Regions from separate parts of the Homo sapiens genome. Here region 2 is linked to region 1. Evidence: fine-mapped expression QTL. A gene starts in region 1. The other region holds a variant in brackets. All regions are shown on one strand. Distances are from middle to middle.

Region 1 (8,318 bases):
CTGCAGTGAGTCTCTCCCAGCTGGGAGGCTGGGGCAGCTCCCCACCCCCAAGTGCTTCAGACCTGCTTGCCCAAACCTTGTTTCTCCTCCTTTGGGACACCTGTTACCTGCATGATCTTGTCTCCAATCTGCAGCCCAGCGATTTCAGCAGGGCCTCCTTCAGACACCCGTGTGACATAAATACCCTGGAAAGGGGCAGCCCAAGTCAAGCCCTGTGGTCACTGGACTGGCCCCTTATCACACAGCGGAAGCCAGCATGGCACATTCTCAGCCGTCCCTCTGTCCCTGCACCCAGCCTCTCCCAGCACATATGGTCAGTGAGGACTGTTCTGAGAGAGCCGGGGCAGAGTTGCTGCACCACCATGCACCGGCCCTGCTGATGGCCGCCTCCTGCTCCTCCTGGGCTCTGTCTGAGCAGCCCTTCCTCACCCCACCCGTCCTTATTCTCACTAGGTCACTTCCGATGCCTTCTTAGAGAGCATGGTTTGAGAGATGAAGTCTGTTCCTTCCATGCAGGCCCAGGAAGCAGAGACCCACCATCTCAGGCCCCTGTGCCCCATGGAGCGGTCCCAGGACCCCAGACCCCCTCACCTTGTCCGTCTTGTCTTCAGAGAAGGGATTCTGGGAAGGATCCTGGTCGATTCCACCTCCAATGCTGAAACCCAGGATTAAGTTCTCACCTTGACGCAGCTTGTGAATTTCAACTCTTTGCTGGCAAAGAAAAAAGCCAGTTGAGAGAAGTGGGTGGTTGGAGAATTAGGCTGGTGGGTGTTCCCAGCAGCAGCCTCAGAGCCATGACAAGGGGCTGGGTCCCAGGCCCCTGCAGGAATCCAGCTGCTCACCAGCCTGGGAGGCTGAGGAGCTGGCACTCAGAACTTGGCCACATTGATCCACCCACACAGCCCTGTGTCCTCAACCTGTCCCCACTTCCCCTGTTAGTCTTAGGCACTAGTCTTGGTCAACATGTGGTGGAAGCCCCTGCTGGCCCAAGAGTCCAGGTGCTGTGGCTTCTGTAGGTGGGAAGCCCGTCTCACAGGAGGTGCTCTGGAAAAGCAGAGATCAAACTTGCATAGAAAGGAGAGGAAGGGGTTTCCTTTCGGCCGGAACCGCCATCTTCCAGTAATTCGCCAAAATGACGAACACAAAGGGAAAGAGGAGAGGCACCGGATATATGTTCTCTAGGCCTTTTAGAAAACATGGAGATGTTCCTTTGGCCACATATATGCGAATCTATAAGAAAGGTGATACTGTAGACATCAAGGGAATGGGTACTGTTCAAAAAGGAATGCCCCACAAGGGTTACCATGGCAAAACTGGAAGAGTCTACAATGTTCCCCAGCATGCTGTTGGCATTGTTGTAAACAAACAAGTTAAGGGCAAGATTCTTGCCAAGAGAATTAATGTGCGTATTGAGCACATAAAGCACTCTAAGAGCCGAGATAGCTTCCTGGAACGCGTGAAGGAAAATGATCAGAAAAAGAAAGAAGCCAAAGAGAAAGGTACCTGGGTTCAACTAAAGCACCAGCCTGCTCCACCCAGGGAAGCACACTTTGTGAGAACCAACGGGAAGGCGCCTGAGCTGCTGGAACCTATTCCCTATGAATTCATGGCATAATAGGTGTTAAACAAAAAAAAATAAAGGATCTCTGGGCTCCAAAAAAAAAAAAAAAAAAAAAAAGAAAGGAGAGGAAGGGCTTGCCGGCCACGGGGACCAGCGCACAGGGTGCCGTGGATACGTGTTCGTGAGACTGGAGTGTCCAGTGCAGGACACAGAACTGGGAGGCGAGATGAGGCTGAAAGTGTAAGGCTGGGGCCAGATCCCGTCCTGGAAGGGGAGCAGGGGTGTCTCCCTAAGCCCCAGACCCTGCTCTTGTGCAGAAACGAGTGTTCTGGGGCATTCCCACCATGCTCTGGGGTGTTCCCACCATGCTCTGGGGCTATGGTCCCCAACTGTGCCAGGTTCTTTTCAAAGCCCTTGGCAAGCGCCGTCCAGTCAGCAGATGCTGGGAGCCAGACCAGATCACTCCCAAAGTCAAGTTTTAACAGGAAGGAGAAAAGAAAAAAGCAGAAGACCACAATCTAGACTAGACCTAAAGAAGTTTCCCAAAGGGAGGATTATTTGCACCAGGCTTTGAGGGGGTGATGGGTAGCCTGACCTTGATCCTGAACCCACTGGAGTTCTCAGGAACGGAGTAGGGTAGGGCATGGTCAGGTTTGCTGCTAGAATGACCACTCAGGTAATCAGTAGAGGAACGGACATCTCACAAAAGCAAGGTGCAGAGGCCGGGGGACATGGAGCTACCTGAAAATGGAGATCTACAGACTTAGGGACCACTCATGGAGGAGAGGAGTCAAGAGGAGCACCCAGCCACCGTGCCTGGCTGAACACACATTATTCAGATGGGGACCCAGGAGGAGGAGGAGCAGGTTAGGTTGGAGTGCCAGGAGCTGCGGGGCAGGTGTCCAGAAGGCAGATGGATCTATGGAGCCAGGGTTCAGAAGAATGGCCTAAATGTCTTTAATATTCTCAGGATTCTACATGGGAGAGGGTGGGGACTGGGGAGTGAGCCTGCCCAAACCCATCCCCAATCCAAGACTCGAGGGAGAGGCCAGACCATACACACCATGTCCAGGCACGTTCCTGGTGTTACCAGAATTAGGGGGCATGGGCCTGCAGTTTTGGGGAAGGCCCTGGGACCAGTTATGGCGTGAGGGAGGGGGGCAGGAAGCATGAGGCCTACTGTGCCTGGGTCCTCATGCCCCAAACTGAGCTCCTCCAGGCCTGCTCTGCCGGCACGGTCAGAAGATTACAGGCCCTTGGGTTGGGAGACAGGGCTGTCACTGATTTGCTGGGTGAGGTCACGCAGAAGGTGGCTTGCTGTAGCTCCTCACCTGTCCCTGCCCCCCTTCTACCTAAAGAGCAAACCTGGTGCCTTCTCTCTGGGGCAGGTAGGGATCTAAAAAAGCCAGGCTGGGCCGGGTGTGGTGCCTCACGCCTGTAATCCCAGCACTTTGGGAGGCTGAGGCAGGTGGATCACCAGAGGTCAGGAGTTCAAGACAAGCCTGGCCAACATGGTGAAACCCCGTTCTACTAAAAATACAAAAATTAGCTGGGCATGCTGGTGCATGCCTGTAATCCCAGCTACTCGGGAGGCTGAGGCAGGAGAATCGCTTGAACCCAGGAGGCGGAGGTTGCAATGAACCGAGATCGCGCCACTGTACTCCAGCCTGGGCGACAGAGCAAGACTGTCTCAAAAAAAAAAAAAAAAAAAAAGTCAAGCTGGTGCAGGGAGGGTGAAGCTTAGGACAGCTGTCAGCTGGTCCAGCAATGTTTCCTCCTGGCCCAGGCCTGAGCCAGTGCTCTAAGCTCAGCCTCACTTGTCGCCTTTATCAGTGGCTTCTCTGCCTCCACCCACCTGATTGCTGGAGCTTCTCCAGCACACCCAACTGAGATAACACACCCAGTCCCTATGGCTCCAGGGCGGGGACTTTCGCTTGACCTACTGCCCACCGGGCAGGCATTTCTTCTCATTCTCTGAACGCTGTCGGGAGGTAGGCAGGAGACCTGAGTCTTTCCTGAGGTGGTCTTTTCTGGCTGAGCACTTCTCTCTGGGACTCCCCACCTCTGTCATAGGGTTGTGTCCCTCTGTGACACCGGCGTCTGAGTCTAACGTCCCAGCCTTCCTTCCTCCCTCTGCCTAGTCTAATAGCACCCAGCACCTAAAACAAGCCAGAGGGCGGCCAGGGGCCTAGGCTAGCCCCCGGAGGGTCTACTCAGGACTCAAGTGCCAGGAGGGAGGCCTGGACTTTTTTGCCTTAAGGGCTGGAGACCCAGGAAAAGTTCGAAGAGGAAACGCTCATCGCAGCTATACGAGCGTCCACCCTGGACCAGGCGGCGAGTGGGTTGGAGGAGCAAGGCTGGACAGGAAGGGGGCAGGGGCTGCCACGGCAGGCTCGGGAGAGCCCCACCCCCAGATCTCCCTCCGGGCGGCGGCGCAGGCTGCAGCGGAGGAAGCATTTCCTCATTCCAGAGGCTGCGACTCATGGACGTCGGGATCGGCGCCCGCCCCCAGCAGCTCCCCGTCTGGGGACACGGAGGCCCGGGAAGGGGGCGCTTTTCCAGGCTCCTGCAGCCAGGCCTTTCCCCGTGGCCCTCCCCGCCCTGCGCACGCAGTCTGGGCTCTGTCCAGGGTCTCGGGAGGCTCTCGGGTCCCGGCCATCCCTGTTTCGTGGCTGGGGGAACTGCGGCCCGCTCCGGCAAAGCGGGGACCCGAGCCCTTGCCGCCGGTTCGCAGGAGCCCCGGGTTCGATGCTCTGTCAACCTGCTTGGGGTGTCCGTTTCCCGCTCTGCGAGGTGGGGTCAGGCCAAGACGAGGAGGAGCCCGCGCAAGCGCACTCACCACCACGGCGGTGACCGGCTGGCCCGGGATGTAGGACATCTCGACCCTGCTCTGGTCGCCCAGCGCCGCTCCGAGAAGCCGGCAGCAGAGTACCCGCGGTCGCGCCCTCGCTGCTTAACAAAGGCCGCCCCGCTCGGCCCGCCCCCTCATGAATAGTTAACAAACCTCCAGCCAATCACTGGCCGGAGCGCCACTCCGCTTTCGGAAGTCCCTGCGCGTGCGCAGAAAAGCGGGCAGAGGGCGGAGCGTGTCCGGGGCGCCCACGGCGCAGGCGCGGAGGGCGGGGCGGGATCTGGGCGCGTGCGCAGCCCGAGACCTCCCGGCAGTCTTCCGAGCAAGATGGCGCCGCGGGCATTTCTTCCACTGCCCGTCTGAGGGAACGCTAAGTAGTGTGTCCGGCGCCGTGTTCCAGGTAACTGGGCCACCGTGGCCGGGGAACGCAGACGCGCCACCACCTCCCGGCCGGCCCGGACCCTCAATCTCCTCGGCGTCTTTGGAAGATCCGAGGCCCAGGACTGGTGCCAGGTCTCGGAAGCTCCAGGGGGAGGGGGCGGCGTGAACCCAACTCACCGAGCTCCGGGCGCCACTTGTAACTTGGTTTTCTCCGCAGCTCCGCGTTGTTCCGCGAGAAAGCGAGAGGCCGAGCCCGGGCTGGTGCGATGGCCGCGGTGGTGGCCAAGCGGGAAGGGCCGCCGTTCATCAGCGAGGCGGCCGTGCGGGGCAACGCCGCCGTCCTGGATTATTGCCGGACCTCGGTGTCAGCGCTGTCGGGGGCCACGGCCGGCATCCTCGGCCTCACCGGCCTCTACGGCTTCATCTTCTACCTGCTCGCCTCCGTCCTGCTCTCCCTGCTCCTCATTCTCAAGGCGGGAAGGAGGTGGAACAAATATTTCAAATCACGGAGACCTCTCTTTACAGGAGGCCTCATCGGGGGCCTCTTCACCTACGTCCTGTTCTGGACGTTCCTCTACGGCATGGTGCACGTCTACTGAAATGGGGGCCCGGGGGACTTTTTTAAAAAACCAGATCGGGAGGACTGTGGCCAGCAATTAACACCATGTAGACTTCCTTAGTTCTTAAGTGGTTGAATTCGCTGCTTGTTCTGTAACGTTATAAATAATTTATATCTGAAGACGGAGAGCCTGTAATATTCTTCAGATTAAATGAAGCGTGAGACACTTTGTGGAGTTCTTTCCTGCTGTAACGCTTAGGCTGCCACTGATGCAAAATCGCCGAGATTTGACTCCTGGAGAGCAAGGAATGGGCCATAGCCTTGTGTTAAGTCCTTGTATTTACACATAGGCCATTCAGAAACGGGCCCTAAGGGCCTACATAAGGAAAGAACTTATTAACATCCTAAGAAGCAGTAACAGTTAATATGTATTAAGAGCTCCCTGGGCCGGGCACGGTGGCTCATGTCTGTAATCCCAGCACTTTGGGAGGCCGAGGTGGGCGGATCACCTGAGGTCAGGAGTTCAAGACCAACCTGGCCAACATGGCAAAACTCCGTCTCTACTAAAAATATAAATATTAGCCGGGTGTGGTGGCGCGCGCCTGCAATGCCAGGTACTCGGGAGGCTGAGGAAAGAGAATCGCTTGAACCCTGGAGGCAGAGGTTGCAGCGAGCCGAGATCGTGCCACTGCATTCCAGCCTGGGTGATGGAGCAAGACTCCGTCTGTCTCTCAGGGAAAAAAAAAAAAAAAAGAGTTCCCTATATGCTGGCATTGTGACTTCTACTCTACACCGATCCTCTCATTTAATTTTAGCAATAACCTTACAGGGTAGATGTTATTGTTAGCTCCCTCGTAAGGAACCTGAGGCTCAGAGAGGTTAAATACTTCTCCCAGAGGAGATACAGCTAGGAAGAGACAGAGCCAGGATTCAAATGCAGGTCTCTTAATTTGCTCTTGATATGTTTGCTGGGTGTACCTTTCACAGGCCAGCGTTCCCTCCCACTAACCACTACTTTCAGGTATATATGGTGTCATTTTAGTTCCATTTCATTTAGTGACAGTCCTTTCCATAAGAAAAAATAAAGTCAAGCTGTATTTTTTAGAATATGTCTAGGGAAGATTAAACATTGTTTGGACATTTAGGCTGGGCACAGTGGCTCACGCCTGTAATCCTAGCACTTTGGGAGTCCGACGGCAGGCAGATCACCTGAGGTCAGGAGTTTGAGACAAGCCTGGCCAACATGGCGAAACCCCATCTCTACTAAAAATAAGATGCAAAAATTAGCCAGGCGTGGTGGTGGGCACCTGTAATCCCAGCTACTTGGGTGGCTGAGGTAGGAGAATCGCTTGAACCCTGGAGGTGGAGGTTGCAGTGAGCCAAGATCATACCACTGCACTCCAGCCTGGGTGACAGCAAGATTCCATCTCAAAAAAAACACAAAAATTGTTTGGACATTGAAGTTGAACTTTGGGCAGGTTTAGGGTGTAAACACCTCCATGTGTTAATCCATGATCCTTTCTTGTCAGGAGGGTTATTTTAGAATAAAACGCATTTGTGGCCGAGCACGGTGGCTCATGCCTGTAATCCCAGCACTTTGGGAGGCCGAGGTGGGCAGATCACCTGAGGTCAGGAGTTCGAGACCAGCCTGACCAACATGGAGAAACCCCATCTCTACTAAAAATACAAAATTAGCCGGGTGTGGTGGCACAGGCCTGTAATCCCAGCTACTAGGAAGGCTGAGGCAGGAGAATCTCTTGAACCTGGGAGGCAGAGGTTGCGGTGAGCCGAGATCATGCCATTGCACTCCGGCCTGGGCAACAAGAGCGAAACTCCCTCTCAAAAAAAAAAGAATAAAATGCATTTGTTTAATTGAGGAATAAATATTGCATTAGAATGACGGTAATTGCCTGAGTGTAGTGGCTCCTGCTGTGATCTCAGCACTTTGGGAGGCCAAGGCTTGAGCCCAGGAGATCAAGACCAGCCTGGGCAACATAGTGAGATGCCCATCTCTACAAAAAAACATTTAATTAGCCAGATGTGGTGGCATGTGCCTGTAGTCCCAGCTACTCAGGAGGCTGAGGTGGGAGGATCAGGATCACCTGGGCCCGGGAGGTTGAGGCCACAGTAAGCCACGATTTTGCCACTACACTCCAACCTAGGCAACAGCGAGACCCTGTCTAAAAAAAAAAGAAATTACAGTAATGAAAATGATGGTGCTCATTGGATTTATGGTTAACTGGGGAAACCAGCATCACCTAACTTCAGAAATACTTAAATCATGGTGAGTACTATGAAGAGGACATAGCAGACCTAGCCCAAGTTGGGGTATATGGAGGTCAAGGAAGTCTTCTCTGAGGAAATAACATTACATCTGAAACCCAAAAGTTGAATAACATAGGCAAGTGTGGGGAAGGAGTTACCTTCAGGAAAGCGCATGTTTCCAGGCCATTGGGCAGGAAGGAATGTGACTGTATTTAGAGAGTGAGAGAAGAGGCCACAGGGTAGACCCAGACCAGATCATGGAGGGCAGTAATGGGTGTGGGGACATGCGCCTGTAGTCCAGCTACTCAGGAGGCTGGAATGGGAAGATCAAGATCACTTGAGCCCAGGAGGTTGAGGCTGCAGTGAGCTCCCATTTGCCCTGGCCTTGATCCTCAGAGCAAATGGGGGAAGCCTTTGGAAGTTTTTAGTCTGAAGTGACGTAATCACATTTGGATTTTTTTTAAAAAAAGAATCTGTTTTAGATTGGAAGGGGATCTGAGAGCTTGAATCCAAGTCCCCTTTTGACAGATCATAGATAGCCCATGGCCAGTCATGGAAATGGATCTGGGACCCAGACCTGTTAAATTCCGTTTCGGCTTCAGGAACACATGCACACGACGCCAAGGAGAAGCTGAGGCCATAGCGTTGCCCCCCATCTCAGTGAGCCCTTTCTCTGCCCCCACTGAAGATCCTCAGTGGTT
Region 2 (8,318 bases), 220 kb after region 1:
AGAGGAATCCAGTCTCTGCTTGCATATCCCCAGGGTTAGGAAGCTCATTCCTTTGCATACCCCTAGGGACAGGGAGCTCACTCTCAGGCAGCCCTGTCCTCTATCTCCTAAGCACAACTCCTGCCCCACCCCTCAGGCTTCCAGGGCCTGGCTTGGGCAACACCTCCCTCGTATCCCCAGACTCACATAGTGTCTGTCTTCACTTTCGTTGTAGGCCAGCCTCACCACACCGTAGGCACCCTGCAGATAGGCATCAGTCAGCCCCACCTGGACAGGGCAACCCCTCCCAGGACCAGCTCAGGAGGTGGGGAGCCGAGCAGCTCTGGTCTCTCCTGCACCCCATCTGCACTACCCACCACCAGCTGGCTCACGGGCAAATATTGTAGCAGATGGGGAGGGGACTCCTGCGCCCTGGTAACTGCCCCTGCTTGGCTCCACATGGCTCCATGCCTCCCTCAGTCCCTCCTTGTCCACTGTCAAGAACTCAGAGAGTCGGGAATCAGGAGCCATCTTCCACCCTCCCCCTGGGTACCTGGGTACTTCCCACAGGGCACGAAACTGTCCTCACCTCCAGGCTAGGACTTGCCTGGCTCTGCCTCCCGTTCCCTCCCACACGAGAGAAGGAGCAGCGCCAAACAGAGAATCCCGAAGCCCCCACTGCTCTCGGCCTGCCCACTCCTACCTTGCCAATCTCACTCTGCAGCTTGTACTGGTTCAGCTGCACGCAGTCCTGTGGGGGAAGAGCGAGCACCAGGTGGAGCTGGGTCCGGAGGCAGCACTGCTCCTACCTCAGAGCCCGTTCAGGGTCCAATTCTGGCCATAAGCTCCTCATTCCCGGACCCCCAGGTCTCACCAAGCTTTTGAGTTTGGATGGGGAAGTTGGTGGTGCCATCGCCCCCGTATGTGACGAGAAGACGTGGCTCATGTTTGAAAACATGGATGGTGACGCCATGGCTGTGCCTTGTTCCCCAGAAGCAGTGGTGAAGGGAAAACGCTAATTCCTGTCTGGATTCTGGAGTCTGGAAGACCCTAATCCATGAGAAACCCATGAGCAACTATTTCCAGAAGCAGCTGAATGAGAAGGTCTAGACTCCAAGGACAAGATGAGGAGCCCTGGGCACAGAGGCTGAGAGCCTGGGTTCAGGCACAGAAAGCTCAGCCCCTGACATCTGTAGACTGCTTGGAACCTGAGTTCACTTTCAGACCTAAATGGCAAGAACTCCAGCAGAAGCCCAGAGGCTGGAGGCAGGCCGGCCGCTTCTGAGTCACAGCAGACTCTAAGAGGCAGAATTAGAGGCGAGGGGTGCAAGCTGGAGAAGAGTTAGGGGGGAAGGGGGACATAGCATCTATCTTCACATCTCTAAGAAGACTACATAGGGGACCAGGGAGAGACCTATTTCCTAGGCCTGGGCTGGGAGTGGGAATAGCAGGACTTAGGGAAGGCAGCCTTTGGCTCAGCTGGAGCTCCCCTGGTTGGGAAGAAGCTATATTGTTAGGTAGTGATCTCCCCAGCTCTGAGGGTATGCAAACCAAAGCTAGATAGCCGTGTGGCACAGACAGGGGCAGGAAAGAGTCTTCATTGCAGACTACTGAGGGGCTCATGAACAACCCCTCGTTCTGCCCCACCAACCTCTGCATCTGAGATGGCCACGTGGTGGGACTCGATGGTGGGCCTCCGCCAGGCCCGGGGGGAGATGTGGCTGGCAGGCCCCGTGGCATAAGGCCCAGCCTGCGCCTCCAGATAGCTTCCTGCTGGCCGCTCCTGTAGGGAAAGCTTCCTGGCTGAGAGGCTAGGCCGGGCTGGGAGCAGTCTTGAAGTACTGCCAGGGATCACAGAGGCAGCTCTGGCCCGTGGTGGGGGGTCCACACCGTTTCTAGTAGGCTCTGGGCCACCATCTGCCTCCTCCAAGTGAGTCACATCGATGGCTGCCACCCGTTCTACCAGCTCTGCCCGAGGATCCTGGCAGCAGACAGCTGGACCCCCCTCCATTGCTTCAGTCAAGGGGGTTCTTCTGCGTAGCCTTGTTGGGAACCTGAGAAAAGAAGGCAGAGAAGGCTTCACTCCTGGGTGTCAGGCTGGCTACCAGGTAAGGTAGCCACAGCGCTGTGGGTCCCACCTCCATGCCTTTGCCCTGGCTGTTCCCTCTACCGGGATTGCCAACACCCAAACTCAAGTCTGTCCCTATGACCTGAATGAATTCACATCGGTTCTGCCGCATGCCAGCCCTCTAGGCCTCAGTATCCCTGCCGGTAACAGAGGCAGTCACTTCTGCCTGCTGGCTTCACAGGGAAGCAGAGAGAATCTGATATTCTGGAATCAGGACAGACAGGGCAGAAGCCTGGAGGCCCAGCAGCACTGGAAGGGGCAGAGCCCAGGGTCAGCTCAGCCCCAGCACAGCATGCAGCCCTGTGAGTCATGAGTCCCAACCCTTGACAGCAGAGCACTCCGACACTGCCTCCTGGAAGCTGAGCTAGACACTAGTAACTCAGAAGCCTTGCTGATGCTTCAGACCCACCCGCCTCCTCCAGGGAGCCCTCCTTGATGTTTCAGCCTCCTACCCCCATCCCTCTCACTGCTTCCAGGAAGACTTCCCTGGGGCTCCCGACTCCAGCCAGCCCTGCCTCATTGACGTCTGTCAAAACAAGGGGATGGGCCCCACATGGTGGCTCACACTTGTAATCCCAGCACTTTGGGAGGCCGAGGCAGGTGGATCACCTGAGGTCAGAAGTTCGAGACTAGCCTGGCTAACATGGCAAAACTCTGTCTCTATTAAAAATACAAAAATTAGCCAGGCATGGTGGCGTGCACCTGAAATCCCATCTACTCGGGAGGCTGAGGCAGGAGAATCGTGTGAACTTGGGAGGTGGAGGTTGCAGTGAGCCAAGATCACGCCACTACACTCCAGCCTGGGTGACGGAGCAAGACTCGGTTTCAAAAAAAAGCAAGGGGATGAGAATGAGGGGAATGAGGGGTGAAACAGGGGCATGACATCCCCTGAGACTCATGTTCTCAAACTCACTGTGTGGCGGCTGAAACATCAGGGAGGTGACCCCCAGCCCTCACCTTCAGCCATGACCCTGGGCTACATCCTGACCCCGGACTGAACCCTGACACTCAGCCTGAGACCCCCATCTCTGTCCCAGGCTTGTAGAGCGCTGGCCATGCCCAACCTGATGCCCTTCCCCCTGCTTGCGCTGGACTCTGCATGTTCTCAGGAGAAGGAAGTGAGTGAACTCCTGACCCTCCATCCTTCCTGTCTGCTGGTAACTTCCTCCGAACCCACACAGCAACTGAGAACATGGGTCTCAGGGAGACCCAGAGTACGCATGGTGAAGCGCCTGCTCTACCGCTCGTTCCCCATCCCCTTGCTTTGACAGATGTCAGCGAGGCAGGGCTGGCTGGAGTCCACCGGCCACTGAGGAGCCAGGACTGGGTTCCAGTCCTGCCTGCTGACCCACCAGGGGCCCTAGACCAGCTCCTTCCCGACTCTGAGCCCCAGTCTCCCGACTTGTCCTGTGGATTCCCTGCCTTCCCATATTTTCCAGGCTCACAGCAGGGTTTGGAGGTAGACTGAGGGTAAGGGTGAGGTCCAGACCCCCTGTGCCCGGTACGCAGTGTGTTGAATGAGTAGAAGCCTGGAGGCGGTGGGGCTGGTGCTGACATGGAGAAAGGAAGAGAGGAGGCTCCACACTAGGAACAGGAAAAGTCATGGAAGCTGGACCCAGAGGAGTGAGAGGGAGTTAATGAGGCTGGAACATCAAGGAGGCCTCCCTGGAGGAGGTGAAGGAGGTGAGGAGGCTGAGTGAGGCTAGAGTATCAGGGAGGCCTCCCTGGAAGAGAGGGCAGGAGACAGTGAGTGCGGCTGTGGCACAAGGAGGCCTCCCTGGAGGAGGTGAGAGGGGACAGGGAGTGGGGCTGTGGCACAGGGAGGCCTCCCTGGAGGAGGTGAGAGAGGACAGAGAGTGGGGCTGTGGCATAAGGAGGCCTCCCCAGAGGAGGTGAGAGGCTGTGGCATAGGGAGGCCTCCCTGGAGGAGGTGAGAGGGACAGTGAGTGGGGCTGGAGCTTCGGGGAGAGCTTGGAAACCAGACAGCATAGGAAGGAGGAAGCCAAAGCTGGGAACACCCTCCAGGACCCGCCAGGCTCCTCCCAGCAGGTGGCCCACCCCTCCGCCCCTTCCCCTCACTCCGCATGCCTTGTTTTTCCCTCCCGAATGTAAGTTTCATGAGATTAGGACGCTCATCTGCCTTGTCTCCAAAAGATCATCAGTGCCTGGCATGTGATAGGAACTCGATAAATATTTGTTGAATAAATGAGTGGTTGCCATAGTGATCGTTACAGCCCTGTCCCCATTAGACAGATGAGAAAGCAGCCTCAGAGAGGCAACCCCAGCAAGCCTCAGGCCCCAGCACATATAACAGAATGAACTCCAGAGTCAGGAGCTCCTGCTTTTTGGCCCTAGGCAGGGACTACGGGACTCAGAGCCGCCACAGGCAGAAGCCACAGGCTGCCCGGGCCCATAAAATTTGCGTATTTCCTTGAGGTTGCCATTCCAGCAAGAGGCCATCCTCCTTTACCCTTGAACACCTTTCCCTGCTTTTCTTAGATAGGTAGAGGGAGGCCCAGCGGGTGGGGATGGGCCCGGGGTCACCCAGCAAGTCGGGGCAGAAGGTTTCCTGTTCCAGCCTGAGCCCTGTTACCCGGTTTGGCGCCCAGGCTCTGAAGCCAGGCAGCCAGGCTGCACCCTTTCCTGGCTGGGAGCCCGTGAGCAGGTGGCTTCGCCTCTGTGCCTTGGGTTTTCCTCGCCCGCAAGATGGGGTTCTAGCGGGCCTCACCTCACCGCACGTGGTGAGATGCTGAGGAGGGAACGCCCGTAAGGCGCTCAGAACAGTGCCTGCCACTAAGGAGGCCGTAAAAGTGAGTTGTTGTTGTGCGGCTGCTGTTGTGATTGCTCGGGACACGCTGAGGCCCAGATGGATGCGC[G/A]GGCGGGCGGAAGGCGGCCGCGAGGGCTGACGTCAGGCTCCCCATCCCTCCCTCCCGCCTGGATCAAATTCAGGTGACTAAGCGCGTCTGCGAGGGAGGCGGCCGGCCGGGGAGGCCCGAGGTTCCTGCCGCGTGTCCGGGAGACAGGGCCTGGCGCCCCGGCCGCGTGTGTGAGGGCGTGTGTCCCCACAGGAGGGAATATGTGTGCGCAGGCTGTGGACCAGGGTGGTGGCGTGTGTGTGTGTGTGTGTGTGTTGTGGGTCCCCACACAGGAGCGCACTGCATGGAGATGAAAACCTCGGTGTGATGTGTGTGTGCGCAGGTGTGTTTATGCGCCTGTGTGCCTGCAGGTCTCCGTGTACCTATGCCCAGGGTAGGGGGGTGGTCCGCGCCCCTGGGGGCCCTGGGAGCCTGATCCCAGAGCTCATATCTGGACTTTTCCCCATAGTCACTGGTCCCACCAGCCTGGCACTGCCTGCTGGGCTGGATTCTGTGCCCCGGGCGGAAACCCAGGCCCATCTGGAGGCTCACACAGGGGGTGTCTCAAGGCCCTTCCCAAGCTCAGGCCTTAGTAGATACTCTGTAGAAACTTAATTCGGTGGATAACTAGGGCCATGTGGGCAAACAGAAAGATGGACAGACAGGCCGGGAACCAGGCCCATGGTACAGCGAAGGATTCCTGTGGGCATGGGCACTGGCTTAGTCCTGCGGCCGTGAACAGCCAGACTCAAGCCCTCCCTCATTGGGAAAAACTACTGCAATCCTGTCCCCCCAGACTGGGGATCTGCTGCCTCGGACAAGTCATCGAGCCTCTTGGAGCCTCTGTTTCCTAACACGTGCATCAAGCAGAAGGCCACTGTCCTGCCAACTCCCAGGGCGATGGAAGGAACAGAATGAGGTGTGGACACAGGAGTAGTTTGTGCCACAGCACTGTGGGGCTGGGATGTGGCTGTGTCTAGAAGCGTCCAAGAGAGCCTTGATGTGCAAGGTCCAACCCCACCTCTGCCCCCAGCTCCAAGATGGCCTGGCACATATCCCCCACCCAGGTTTTTCCTCCCAGGCTGTGCCCCACCCCCCAAGCGTCTGGCCACTCCCAAGGAATGTGGGCCCCCGGCTCCAGACGCCCACTTGGCCTGGCTTCTTCCACAGGACATGCCCCATCCAGCTGCATCCCTCAAAGGAGCCCCAGAGCAGGCAGACCCTGCTGCCATCCACGCGGGTTCAAGTAGCTCCACCTGGGAGCTGGTCAGGCCCTGGTCAGGCCTCATTCTGAGCGCTGGAAGGCCGCTGTGAACCCCAGTGCCAAGCCGAGGCAGGGGACCAGCTACATCCAGGCGAGGGGATGGACAGCCGTGACCAGCAGAGGACCGAACAGAAGGGAAAGCCGCAGAGGTGGCGGCCACCCAGGCCAGACACAGAAGGTGGTCCTCCCATGCCTGGGCCGCCTCACTGGAGCTGTGTTTATGATCCTGGCGAGTATCTGGATGGCCCTGGCAACGGGTGCCCTCCGCAGCTCCCGCCCCCACCCGGGATGACTCAGTCCCCTTGAGGGAGGCCCAGGCGTCTGGTGCCAAGTCATGCTTGACGACTCCTGCTGTGAGGACGCCCGCTCCCACCATCCCTGGGGAGCCCCCAAGCACCAATACGGGCTGTTGCCTGACTCAGCACAGCTACCCCCAGCGCATCGTCCTGGCCCACCCACGGAGGCTGATGGTCTCCAGGCCTCATCCTCTGCCCCTCCTCATCCTCCACACCAGGTCTGTGCCTCCAGCCCCACTCTTTCCAGCTAGCTGCCACCTCCCCGTCCATGTTCCCGAGCAGCTCAGATCCAACAGGCCCCAGATTCAACTCAGCATCTTCCCCAAACCTGCTCGTCCTCCTCTGTCTCCATTGCGAGACGGGTACCACACCCTCCCCATTCTTTCCTGACCCAGGTCAGCAATCCGGGAGCCCTCCTTGTCACTCGTCCTTTCCCTGTTGCCCACCCTTGCTCCCCACAACCCCACACTTACTCTCCACTGCAGCCACACCACAGCTTCCCAAATTGCATACTCTGTTCTGCTGCCAGGCCTCAGTACAAGCTGTGCCTTCTGCCAGGAACACACCTCCCTCTCCTCTGCTGCCTGGAGGACAGCTCAGACATCGCCTCTTCTGAGCCCTCCTTGATCTCCCCACTACCTGCTGGGTGAGCTCACCAAGTCAAACCCCTTAGAAGTCCAGATTCTACCCACTGCTTCGTTTCCCACTATGTGGGTCTTCCCTGACTCCAGGCTAACACCTCCACCCCACCCTACCCCATCCTCCACACCAGCTGCTGGAGGGATTTCCAACATGCAAATGTGGTTATAGTTCTCCCAGACCTGGCCTTCCAGGAACTCGGAATGTCATGGATAGAGGAGCAGAAGTGGCCTCAGACTGGGGGCAAGGTTGGGGGGGGGGTCACAGGCTAGGGAGCAGCCAGGGACATGGACGCCTGGGATGCAAGCACAAATAGTCACGGAGCACCTGCTGTCTGCCAGACTCTGTGCAAGCCTGTGTGGGGAGATACAGCAGTGAACCAAAAAGACCAAGTCTCTGCTCTCATACAGTTTAATTTCTCGTGGGGGCAAGAAGCAACAAACAAGAAAGCCAGTGATTCAGATATGATATGTCAAGTGGTACATATAGGAAGAAAAATACAGCCGAGTAAGAAGGATCAAGAGAAAGGGGCTGGGAGATGCTGCTGATACAGTGTAGTTGAGGAAGGCCTTTTGGGAGCAGGACTGGAGCAGACACCTGAAGGAAGGAAGGGGCAGTAGGCAGTGTAGTTATCTGGGGAAGAGCATTTCAGGTGCAGGGACCAGCAGGTGCAAACGCCATGAGGGGACAGTGCTTGCTCAGTATGAAGAACAGCAGGGAGGCTGACGTGGCTGGAGTGGAGTCTTCCCCACATAAGAGGCACCTGATAGCAAGAGGAGTTACATCTGGAGAGAAAGCCCCCTCACTCATTGTGCTGGCCTCAGGGATGGCTTCCTAGAGGAGGTGGCACCTGAGCTCTCTTCTGAGCACTGAGCAGGATTTCAGGATGAGGCGAGGATGGAAGTTTGCACTGTGCATATAGGAGAGTCATTTCCTGGCTGGGACTCCGGGCTTGGTTTGGGGGTGGGGAGAGCTTGGTGGACAGAGCCCAGGAGGCCCCCAAAGCCAGGGGGAGGTTGTGAGCAGGGGAGTGCCTCGGTTAGGTGAGGTTTAAAACGACTCCCATGGCTGCTGTGAGGACTGACGGTGGGAGACCGAGGAAGAGGCGAAGGGTCCCCAGAGTGTGTGCGCCTGGGACGCAGTGGGGGGTCAATTTG

Which allele goes with the higher level. Positions count from the first base shown, and alleles are read on the strand shown. Sizes are in standard deviations (SD) of each study's normalised expression.
For the expression in CD4 T cells of the gene that starts at base 4,725 in region 1, G is the high allele of the variant in region 2 and A is the other (large effect, 1.8 SD a copy in BLUEPRINT).

What was found.
Region 2: its variant is fine-mapped to the expression of EMC6 in CD4 T cells (BLUEPRINT, PIP 0.95).

What each region holds. Positions count from the first base shown.
Region 1 is chr17:3,664,088-3,672,405 of GRCh38, forward strand. EMC6 (ER membrane protein complex subunit 6) reads left to right here and starts at 4,725. Exons shown (of 2, transcript NM_031298.4): 1 at 4,725-4,812; 2 at 5,011-5,578. The coding sequence starts at 5,060. The coding sequence ends at 5,392. It overlaps TAX1BP3 (Tax1 binding protein 3), which reads right to left and starts at 4,491. Exons shown (of 4, transcript NM_014604.4): 1 at 4,401-4,491; 2 at 592-711; 3 at 108-185. The coding sequence starts at 4,439. P2RX5-TAX1BP3 (P2RX5-TAX1BP3 readthrough (NMD candidate)) reads right to left here. Exons shown (of 15, transcript NR_037928.1): 12 at 4,971-8,318; 13 at 592-711; 14 at 108-185. It also overlaps the pseudogene RPL21P125. RefSeq lists enhancers at 3,285-3,816, 3,817-4,347, 4,880-5,410, 5,411-5,941 and a silencer at 4,439-4,778.
Region 2 is chr17:3,883,698-3,892,015 of GRCh38, forward strand. It overlaps CAMKK1 (calcium/calmodulin dependent protein kinase kinase 1), which reads right to left. Exons shown (of 16, transcript NM_032294.3): 2 at 1,631-2,033; 3 at 683-730; 4 at 187-240. The coding sequence starts at 1,990. Among named protein-coding and RNA genes, the nearest start is that of CAMKK1, 5.2 kb to the right of the region's middle. RefSeq lists enhancers at 4,376-4,895, 4,896-5,417. The variant G/A (reference allele first, on the strand shown) is at 4,984.